Homo sapiens: one gene and its partner. The protein of the gene in region 2 interacts with the protein of the main gene of each other region in a biochemical or structural test. Each region holds a gene or a part of one and is shown on either strand. Other genes may lie near its edges.

Region 1 (3,459 bases), on a different chromosome or scaffold from region 2:
TTACAGGCACGTGCCACCACGCCCGGCTAATTTTGTATTTTTAGTAGAGACGGGATTTCACCATGTTGGTCAGGCTCGTCTTGAACTCCTGACTTCAGGAGATCTACCTGCCTTGGCCTCTGAAAGTGCTGGGATTACAGGCGTGATCCGGCCTTGCCATTGACTGTTTTTGTTCTCCAGAGGCGGCAGCTTGCTGAGCATTGAGACCCAGGCTCCAGGCCCCACCTGCACTTAAAGGCTCTGTGATTTCAGGCAAATTCCTTAACTGGGGCAAATGTCTCAATGTCCTCTGCTGCAAAGGGGGACTAATGCTCACCACGATGTATCTGAAGTGCCCGGCACGTAGGAGGGGCTTAATGAAGGGCTATTATTGCTATTGTTGGTATCCTATTTTATATATATATCCTTCTGGAAAAAACCTCTTGAAGAAAGCTAACCCCTGAAAGGACAAACACATTTCAGGCCCTCTCTGAGCTTCAGCAAAGAACACAACACATTCCAGGCTGCCTTCGTTCCAGCTAAATTTTATTTGTCGGATTTTTGACAGACGTCTAAATTATACATTGAGTTTTCCACATGACCAAACACCACATCTCTTCCTTTGATTATCATTTTCAAAAGGGATTATAAAAAAAGAACCTTTTGATGGATCAGACTGAACCCTGAAACCACATGGAGTGCAGAGCTAAAAATAAAAGGAAGTAAGAACTGGTCCCCGAGAAGGAAAGGAAAGGGAAATCAAAGCAAACTCTGACGGGAATGGAGAGACGAGTCCTGGTGAGGGTGACATGGTGTCACCCTCCAGGCCAGGCCGGATAAGGAGCGGCCAACAGTGAGGGTGGGGCGCAGAGTGGCACAAAAATAGCCACTACTTTAGTCCAGAGGGGAATAAAGAAATTTGTCAAAAGCAAGGAGAGAGAAGTGGAGACGGAGGGAGGGAGGAAGGAAGGGGGCAGGACCATGTCCTCCCAGCAGCCGTGGGAGCTGCGGACTCCTTTAACCCTGGCACATTTCTAACCGCCGGCATAATCGCTGACTTTCAGCTGTGCACCGACATGTTCCCCAGCTCAGCCCACATCAATGACACCCTTGTTTCCATAGTAACCAAGGGAGAGTGAAGGGGAAAGGGTGTGTTGCACTGGGTGCAGGGAATCCAGCCAAAAGCAGCCACACGGGGTAGGTCGGGAGGAGGGGAGGACTCGAGTTTTTCCCACAACTGGCTTGAGCACATATCACGAGCACCCCCCAGGCCTTGCCTGCCCTCCGGCCCCCAGCCCTCTCCCCCGCACATTCAGATGCAATTGTGCGCAGGGCAAAAGTCTCGCTAAGACTCACTGGGGACAGGAGGAGGGGAAAAGGGGTCTTCCCTTTCCAGCTTCAAATTCTGTCTTCTGGTCAGGGGGCAGGAGTGGGCAGGGAAGAGGCAAGAGGGCTTTAAAAAGTATTTTGTTTTTAAATGGGAGCTTTCAAACTCTGCCTTTTTCAGGCTTCTCTCATCTACCCCAGAGCCCCAGGAGGGTTCAAAAGGGCTCAAAGGGAAGATGAAAGCGTGTGACATCTGCAGTGTCTCTGTGTCTCTGCAGCTGAGAGCAAATCAGAACATTTACAGAGGCCGTTATCAGAGGAGTGGCTTCTGCCTGCTAGGAGAGGCCTTGGGATGGCTCTTTAAAACAGTCCCCTAAGTTGGTGGTAAAAGAACAAAAATATTTTACAGACCCTCCAATGCCAAAGTTCCATACTGCAGTGTTCCAAAATTGCAGACCTCCAAGCAGGCATTTTGCCCCTCAGATAACTTGTCCCTGCTGAACTATTCGGAAGAAAAAACAATTTGCAAGTGCTAGAGCCACATTTGCAGCCTGGTAGAAGGGGGATTTCTGATTCCTTATAATTCTGTGTTGCCTCTGTAAGGGAGAGCTTGGGTGAGCCAGAGAAGCCAGTGGAGGAGGCTGCAGAGAGCAGCTAGCTCTGAGGTTAAAAAAACCCCTCACTTTCTTTTGTTTTGCAAGTCCTTACAGGTCTGTCCACAGCAACTCTGGGGCACCTTTTCACGGCTGGCTTTGTTAATGACTTTCATGTCAGATCGCTTTTGAAGCTGGCTATGCCTCAGTCTCTGCTGCACTCTTAGCCAGAAGCAGCTGGGTATTGAGGGCCAGGGGCTGCAGCGGCCCCTTCAGTCTGCTCACACGCCCTGATGGGCTTGGGAAGGGCCACCTCCCAGGATGAGAAGGCAGCTGGCCCCCAGGGACCCACCAGTCACTGGACAGTCTCTTATTCATTCTCTGAAAACCCCTGAGCTCAGGCACCAGAACAGAGTTTAATTCAGGAGCCGGGCAATGCTCTGGCCTGTTTCCCCATGTTTGAAGCTGAGGATTTCTGAGGTTCAGGGAAACAAGCTCGTTTTGCAACGAGGGGCAGGAGAAATGTTCTGCTATTCCTCTCCAATCAATCAACAGAGGACGGACATTCTGCTGCAGAGAGGCAGAGGAGCCCAGCAGCTGGGGTGACTCTTGATTCCTTGGACACGACCCCTGCAGTCACACACACACCCATGTCCTCCCCAGCAGCAAACCCTCTCCATCCAGGAGCATCCCACACCACCAAGTTGCCAGCACTGTAAAAATTGATCTAAAAATCGATCTGCCTGGCTTTTCTCAGTGGAGCAGGTTCATGGTAAAGCTGCATTTATTTCTAAAATCTGATAGCAGCGGCCTATTGTGATCGTTTAAACACAGAATTCTTTGAGCTTTAGAAATCCTGTCTATAGGACGGCCGTGGAGAAGCCAGCTAATCTCAGAGTCGGCTGCTCACTGCTCCACTGAGCTGGAGAAAGCCTGTTTACGCTAGCCTGAGCCCTCGATGTGAGAGCTTTTTAAGGACCTTGTAATTTTTCTGGAATTAAACCTCCCACCTCTCCTTACATTCCAGATGTCATTACAGTCAAAAGTCATAAGAATTTGCTTCTCTGTGTGGCTGGCTGGGGCAGAGGCAGGGGTGGGTGGGATGGGGTATGTTTCTGTAGTGACTTGTCTGCAAGAAAGACTTTTTTTTTTTTTTCTGTCCAAAGAGTGAGGATTACATACGTAGTCTCCGACCTGCAAGACGATGAGATGGTTTAATTATCTGCCTTTTCTCCCCCCACCCCCACCCAGCAGCTTCCTGTCGGACAGACTGAAGCCTGGCTGGGCTAGTGACGGTAAAAATCACTGACAGCACCAGCAAACACTGTCTGTGGTTTCAAAACCATGGAGGGAATGCAAGGGACGGGTCAGTAAATAAATGAACTCAGCAAAGCTGCTTCTTCCTCTTTTTCTTTTTCTTTTTTTTTTTTTGAGAGGAAAAAAAAGCCCACTGGAATTGTCTAAACTGCAATGCAATCTCTTGCTCATTTAAAAGATCTCATTTTCTAATCATGTGCTTTGAGACATTTAATACTATTTCAATTATGCAGAGGAAATAATA
Region 2 (7,292 bases):
AGGTGGCAAAGAACTGAGGGTGGCCTCAATCCAACGGCCTTGGGGCAAAGCCTGCCCATGTCGAGTTTTAACTGCAGCTGTGGGCAAGCTTGACACAAAGGACCCAGCTCAGCCATGCCAGACTCCCGACCCACAGAAACTACAAGAGGATAAATGTGTGTCAAACACTCAAGTTTGGGGTAATTAGTTATGATCCAATAGATAACTAATACAATAAGCTGTGTTTATATGCATAATATTTACATCAGGAAAAGTTCGGAGAAAATAAACAACTTATCTCTTGGCACTAGAATTTCATAAATTTAAATTTAGTATTTTTCTTGCTTATCTTTATTTTCTAGTTCTCCTACAAATGAGCATCTATTATTTATATAACGTTAAGAACTAAATGTAAAATGGGTCCTTATTCTCTCTCACCATGCCACTAAACCCTTCCTTATCTGCCATGATTACCCTCAACAGAGTATTTGCATCATCTACAAAGAAATGAGATTTGCTAACTCAACCTGACCCCTACATGAATTATCACAATTTCAAAATAAGTTATCCTATGGGATTTTACCCCACTGAAAAAAACAGCAGTTGAATACATATCAGAAGCTTACCGAGTAAACCACTAACATCAAGACAGCATGAACATGAAAGTGAGTACTAATTAGCAGCTAATTATCTGCATGATATTTACCTCTGCTATTTGGAGAATACGGTCCATTATGGACATTCGTGCTTGCCCAGGCTGGGTGAGGAGGTTCCCGTCAAGGCGAGAAAAATCAAAAGGGATCAGGCAGGTCACGGAGAGCCAGAGCAAAAGCATGTAGCGGGTTTCCCAAGCCTAAAAAATTAAACCACGGGAAGAATGAGTCTTGCTTGAAAATCACAGGCCACTGGCCACAATCTACTCAAAGTCACTGCCCTCCATGCCCACCCAATGCCTATGAAAGCCATTCAAATGCCATCACCCTCAGGGCCAGAAATGCAAGCCGTTCACCAACTCCTCGCCACATCCCCCCCGGAATCCCCACCACACACACCTACCGCCGTAACTTAGCTCAGCAGACAAGAGAGACATCAAAATGAACAAAGAAAAATCATAATACATCAGTATAGCAGCTTCTCTTCGCTGGCACCTCTCCACATACAAACTGGCCTTTTGAAAAAGTGAAAAACAGATAAAAAGTAAAAACACCTAAGAATAAAGAAAAAAGGCCAGGTGTGGTGGTTCACACCTGTAATCCCAACACTTTGGGAGGCCGAGACGAGCGGATCACCTGAGGTCAGGAGTTCCTTTTTTTTTTTTTGAGATGGAGTCTCGCTCTGTTGCCCAGGCTGGAGTGCAGTGGCGCAACCTCGCTCACTGCAAGCTCCACCTTCCGGGTTCACGCCATTCTCCTGCCTCAGCCTTCTGAGTAGCTGGGACTACAGGCGTTTGCCACCATGCTAGGCTAATTTTTGTATTTTTTGTAGACACAGGGTTGCACCGTGTTAGCCAGGATGGTCTCGATCTCCTGACCTCGTGATCCGCCCACCTTGGCCTCCCAAACTGCTGGGATTACAGGCACGAGCCACCGTGCCTGGCCGAGGTCAAGAGTCCTAAACCAGCCTGACCAACATGGAGAAACCCTGTTTCTACTAAAAATACAAAATTACCCTGGCGTGATGACACATGCCTGTAATCCCAGCTACTCAGGAGGCTGACACAGGAGAATCGCTTGAACCTGGGAGACAGAGGTTGCAGTGAGCCAAGATTGTGCCATTGCTCTCCAACCTGGGCAAGAAGAGTGAAACTCTGTCTTTTTAAAAAAAAAAGAATAAAGAAAACAATTATCAACTTCTAATAAAAAAGGAGTACCCTTATTTTCAGTAATTAGTAAAAAACATCCCAATTTGTCCCTGCAATCATTCCACTGGGGGGCGCTAGAAGTACTAGGGAAAGAAGGGCACGGAGTGCAGGGCAGCAGGGAAATGCCCCACAGCGCTCATCAGTCACATCCACGCCGAGACAAGCCACCGCACTGCACGGTTATAAACCGTGTGCTCCTCCAAATACATACCACGCAGAAGACAGCGAGCATAGCAGGCCCCGCTGCCGTCTGAGGCAAGGCCCCTGACGAGGCCGGCCCTGGGCTGGTATCCAGGGACCTGGACACCAGCAGGGTTCCCACCAAGCCCTGCCTGATGAGGTCCCTCGCTGGCTCAATCTGCACAAACCGTGTGCTTTACGCTGGCACCTGCTTTCCTGCTGGGGGTCTGGAATTTCGTTTCGTGCCAGGCAGAGGTGTCCATGTGGCCAGACCCCAGTGAAAGCTCTGGGCACCAAGTCTCAAACGTGCTTCTCTGATAGACACCTCACAGGTGTGGTCACATCTCACTGCTGGGGGAATGACACAGGCCCTGTGGGACCCAACTGGAGGACCCCGGGAGCTCCCGCCTGGTTCTCCCCAGACCCCACCCATGTGCCTTTTCCCTTTGCTGATTTTGCTGTGTATTATTTTGCCATAACAAGTGACAGCCAAAAGGAGGACTCTATGCTGAGTGCTGTGAGTCCCGCTCAGGAAGTATCAAACCTGGGGGTGGTCTTGGGAACCCAACACAGTTATACTTACACAGTTAAAAAAACATAGAAACAATGACGGATTTATTGTTAAACTACACCTAGGCATAATTTTTTTTATAAAGGGGCTATTTTAAACGAAAATAATTTAAAGCAACTTGTACAAGAAGTAAAGGAAAAGTGAAAAGAAAAGAAAGAAAAGAGGAGTGACACAAAACAAAGGGAGATAAAATGAAAGAAACAGGAAGGGGAAGGTGCAGCAGGGTGGGGCAAGCAGGGAGGAAGGACAGGCACGGAGGGCTGGAGACGAGGGGGGAGGCAGAGACACTCACTTCATGGTCCTTGGGATTCTGAATTGTGACCAAATCTAAAACAGGCTCTACATCGGCAACTTCATGAGGAAATAAACGAAGAAATGTTTTATAGCCTCGAACCTATCAAATAAAGAGATGCTGAATTATAACATTTAAAAATACAGAGAGCAGCAAAATTGCCTTTCTACCCTTTCATCAAAAATCACCAGCTACGCGACCCACTGATCAAAGAGAATTCTGTGACATTACAGTGACACAATTTAGTAAGACCGTAGTCACCCCAAGAAAGCTACCCATGGCCAAGAGCGATGGCTCACACCCGTAATCCCAGCACTTTGGGAGGCCGAGGCAAAAGAATAGCTTGAGACCAAGAGTTGGAGACTAGCCTGGGCAACATAAAAAATTAAAAATTAGACAGGATGGTGGCACATGCCTGTAGTCTGAGAGGATGAGGCAGGAGGGAGAATCATTTGAGACCAAGAGTTCGAGGCTGCAGTGAGCTGACTGCATCACTGCACTCTAGCCTGAGTGACAGAGCAAGACCCCATCTCTCAAAAAAAAAGATTTCCTTCCTAAATTGGTAGTGTTATTCATTACCATATTTACGGAATCAGTCATTAAATATGTTCATTTATATGACTGTCCTCTGACATTTATGAGGAATAAGTGCCTACAAACCGCAAGGGCCCAAATTCATTAACACTTCCCTGAAGCTCAGTGATACCACGCCTTCCGGAGAAATCCTAACCTCAAACAGAGGAGCTACAGAGGCCTGCGTGTCCTTGGCAGCTCACCCGCAGTGTCCTCTCGCTGGCCAAGGACTTTCCCGCCAGACAACAGAAATGCGCCTCGCCACTACGAACCCCAAGCCCCACCCTGAGACGGCTGTGAGTACTTCCATAGTCAAAACTGCCAACAGTGAGCCTCTGGGCCAGCACACAGACACCCGCAAGCTTGTAAGAAAAGCAGACTATGAGCACAGACACCCGCAAGCTTGTAAGAAAAGCAGACTATGAGCAGACACCCGCAAGCTTGTAAGAAAAGCAGACTATGAGCACAGACACCCGCAAGCTTGTAAGAAAAGCAGACTATGAGCACAGACACCCGCAAGCTTGTAAGAAAAGCAGACTATGAGCACAGACACCCGCAAGCTTGTAAGAAAAGCAGACTATGAGCACAGACACCCGCAAGCTTGTAAGAAAAGCAGACTATGAGCAGACACCCGCAAGCTTGTAAGAAAAGCAGACTATGAGCACAGACACCCGCAAGCTTGTAAGAAAAGCAGACTATGAGCAGACACCCGCAAGCTTGTAAGAAAAGCAGACTATGAGCAGACACCCGCAAGCTTGTAAGAAAAGCAGACTATGAGCACAGACACCCGCAAGCTTGTAAGAAAAGCAGACTATGAGCACAGACACCCGCAAGCTTGTAAGAAAAGCAGACTATGAGCACAGACACCCGCAAGCTTGTAAGAAAAGCAGACTATGAGCACAGACACCCGCAAGCTTGTAAGAAAAGCAGACTATGAGCACAGACACCCGCAAGCTTGTAAGAAAAGCAGACTATGAGCACAGACACCCGCAAGCTTGTAAGAAAAGCAGACTATGAGCACAGACACCCGCAAGCTTGTAAGAAAAGCAGACTATGAGACCCCCGCCTAGACCTACTTGCTCAAAATCTATAGCACAGCAAAATTCCCAGGAAATTCATCTGCACATTAAAGTGTGAGAAGCACTTCCATTTCCACAGAGTCTCGCTCTGTCACTCAGGCTGGAGTGCAACAGCATGATCTCGGCTCACTGCAACCTCTGCCTCTCAGGTTCAAGCCATTCTCCCGCCTCAGCCTCCCAAGCAGCTGGGATTACAGTCATGTGCCACCAAGCCCAGCTAATTTTTGTATTTTTAGTAGAGACGGGGTTTCACCATGTTGGCCAGGCTCATCTCGAACTCCTGACCACAGGTGATCCACCTGCCTCAGCCTCCCAAAGTGCTGGGATTACAGGCATGAGCCACCGCACCCGGCCTGCTTTCTCCTTGTAAGAAGTTTTTCTGATTTAGTCTCATCTCCACCCCATTCCCTTCCTAGCTACACAGTGCTTCAATCTATTCAAATGCAAGATGCTGAATATCCTGACACTGTTTCAGCCAAAGAGCCCACATCACTAAATTCTGATCCCCAACATACAGTAAAAAGGGACAGAATTAAACCCACAACTTGTGTCTAAGAACTATCTTTCTTGAGAAATAACATTTTGGAGGGTAACCTCTGGACCAAGTATATTACAAAAGTATCTGTCAACTCTGAAGTGCTATGGAAATGTTACCTTGGTGATGATGTAAAGAAATTTAAAAGCCAGATGTACAAGGGAAGCTGGAGATGTCTGATCTTGCACTATGTCCAACAACAAGTTCATCATCCATTCTAGGGAAAAACATAGGAAACATTTACTGTAAAAGTGAACATCAACATGACATTGAGGCCGGCCAGGTGTGGTGGCTCATGCCTGTTTTCCCAGCACTTTGGGAGACCAAGGTGGGAGGATCATTTGAAGCCAGAATTTCAAGGCGGCAATGAGCTATGATCCTACTATTGCACTCCAGCCTGGGCAACAGAGCAAAACCCGTCTCTTTTTTTTCTTTTTTTTTGAGACAGAGTCTTGCTCTGTCCCCCAGGCTGGAGTGCAGTGGCGTGATCTCAGCTCACTGCAACCTCCACCTCCCGGGTTCAGGCTATTCTCCTCCCTCAGATTCCCAAGTAGCTGGAATTACAGGCACGCGTCACCACGCCTGGCTAATTTTTGTATTTTTAGTAGAGACGGGGTTTCACCATGTTGGCCAGGCTGGTCTCGAACTCCTGACCTCAGGTGATCCACCCACCTCGGCCTCCCAAAGTGATGGGATTACAGGTGTGAGCCCACCGCACCTGGCCCAAAACCCTGTCTCTTAAAAAACAAAAACAAACAAAAAGACATAGCTAGGTTAAACGTAAGCAAAAGGAAAAAGATATTCCAACCAATCACAAATCATAAAAGAGCTGGAGTGGCTCTGTTAATATCAGACAAAGTAAATGTCAGAACAAGCATTACCATCAGAGATAAACAGAATGTTTCATGATAATAAAAGGATCAATTCATCATGAAGACTTAACAATTCTGTAAGTATACACACCAACCTACAGAGCTTCAAAATAAGCACAGAAGAAGCTGAGAGAAATGAAAGGAGACACGGTTGAAAACTTCGACACTCCTGTTTCAGGAACTGATAGAACAAGTAAGAGAAAATCGCTGAAACCTAAACAGCACTATCACCCACCTTACTTACGTGACATTTAGAGAACAATCTACCCAACAACAGAACAGACATTTTTCTCAAGTGCACGCGGAATGTTCAACAAAACAGACCATACGCTGGGCTGCAAGTCTTCATACATGGAAAACAACTGCAACTGGCATCCGGGAAACGCAGAGAAGGACACAACGAGATACACTCCCTGAAATCAGAGAGACTGGCAACGCTGAGTGCTGAAGAGAACCCAGAGCAGCTGGAATCCTCATACCTTGTTGGTAGAAATGGTCAACAGTACAATCTTCATGGCATCAGTATGGCAGGTGATGAGTCACACACTTTTTTTTTTTTTGGAGACAGAGTCTCACTCTGTGACCCAGGCTGGAGTGCAGTGGTGTCATCTCAGCTTACTGCAACCTCTGCCTCCCACATTCAAGTAATTCTCGTGCCTCAGCCTCCTGAGTAGCTGGGACTACAGGCACCTGCCACCACACCCGGCTAATTTTTTGTATTTTAGTAGAGATGGGGTTTTACCATGTTGCCCAGGCTGGTCTTGAGCTCCTGAGCTCAGGCAATCCACCTGCCTCAGTCTCCCAAAGTGCTAGAATTACAGGTAGGAGCCACCGCGCCTGGCCAAGTCATACACTTTCTACAAGTAAGACACTTTCTGCTACTCAGCAATTCCACACATGCGTATTTTCCCAAGAGAAAATAAAACCTCTGTCTACCTAAAAACTTGTACATAAACATTTTCACAGTAGCATTACTTTTTTTTTTTTTTTTTTTGAGACGGAGTCTCGCTCTATCACCCAGGCTGGAGTGCAGTGGCAAGATCTCGGCTCACTGCAACCTCCACCTCCCGGGTTCAAGCAATTTTCCTGCCTCAGCCTCCCAAGTAGCTGGGACTACATGCGCACACCGCCACACTGGGCTAATTTTTTGTATTTTTAGTAGAGATGGGGTTTCACCGTGTTAGCCAGGATAGTCTCAATCTCCTGACCTCATGATCTGCCCACCTCAGCCTCCCAAAAAGTAGCATTATTAATAACAGCCAAAAACCGGAAACAACTCAAATGTCCATCAACAGATAAAAGAAGAAACAACCCCAGCACTTTGGAAGGCTGAGGCGGGCGGATCACGAG

Evidence for each region.
Region 1: the proteins of TBCD (region 2) and ARL3 form a complex in vitro, tested with the Homo sapiens proteins (one study listed by IntAct).

Annotation. Positions count from the first base shown.
Region 1 is NC_000010.11:102,673,223-102,676,681, forward strand, and holds the end of ARL3 (ADP-ribosylation factor-like protein 3), read right to left. Parts: 3' UTR 509-3,459; downstream 1-508. UniProt on the Homo sapiens protein: Small GTP-binding protein which cycles between an inactive GDP-bound and an active GTP-bound form, and the rate of cycling is regulated by guanine nucleotide exchange factors (GEF) and GTPase-activating proteins (GAP).
Region 2 is NC_000017.11:82,761,960-82,769,251, reverse strand, and holds part of TBCD (tubulin-specific chaperone D), read right to left. Parts: intron 5,288-7,292; coding exon 5,190-5,287; intron 2,986-5,189; coding exon 2,884-2,985; intron 833-2,883; coding exon 686-832; intron 1-685.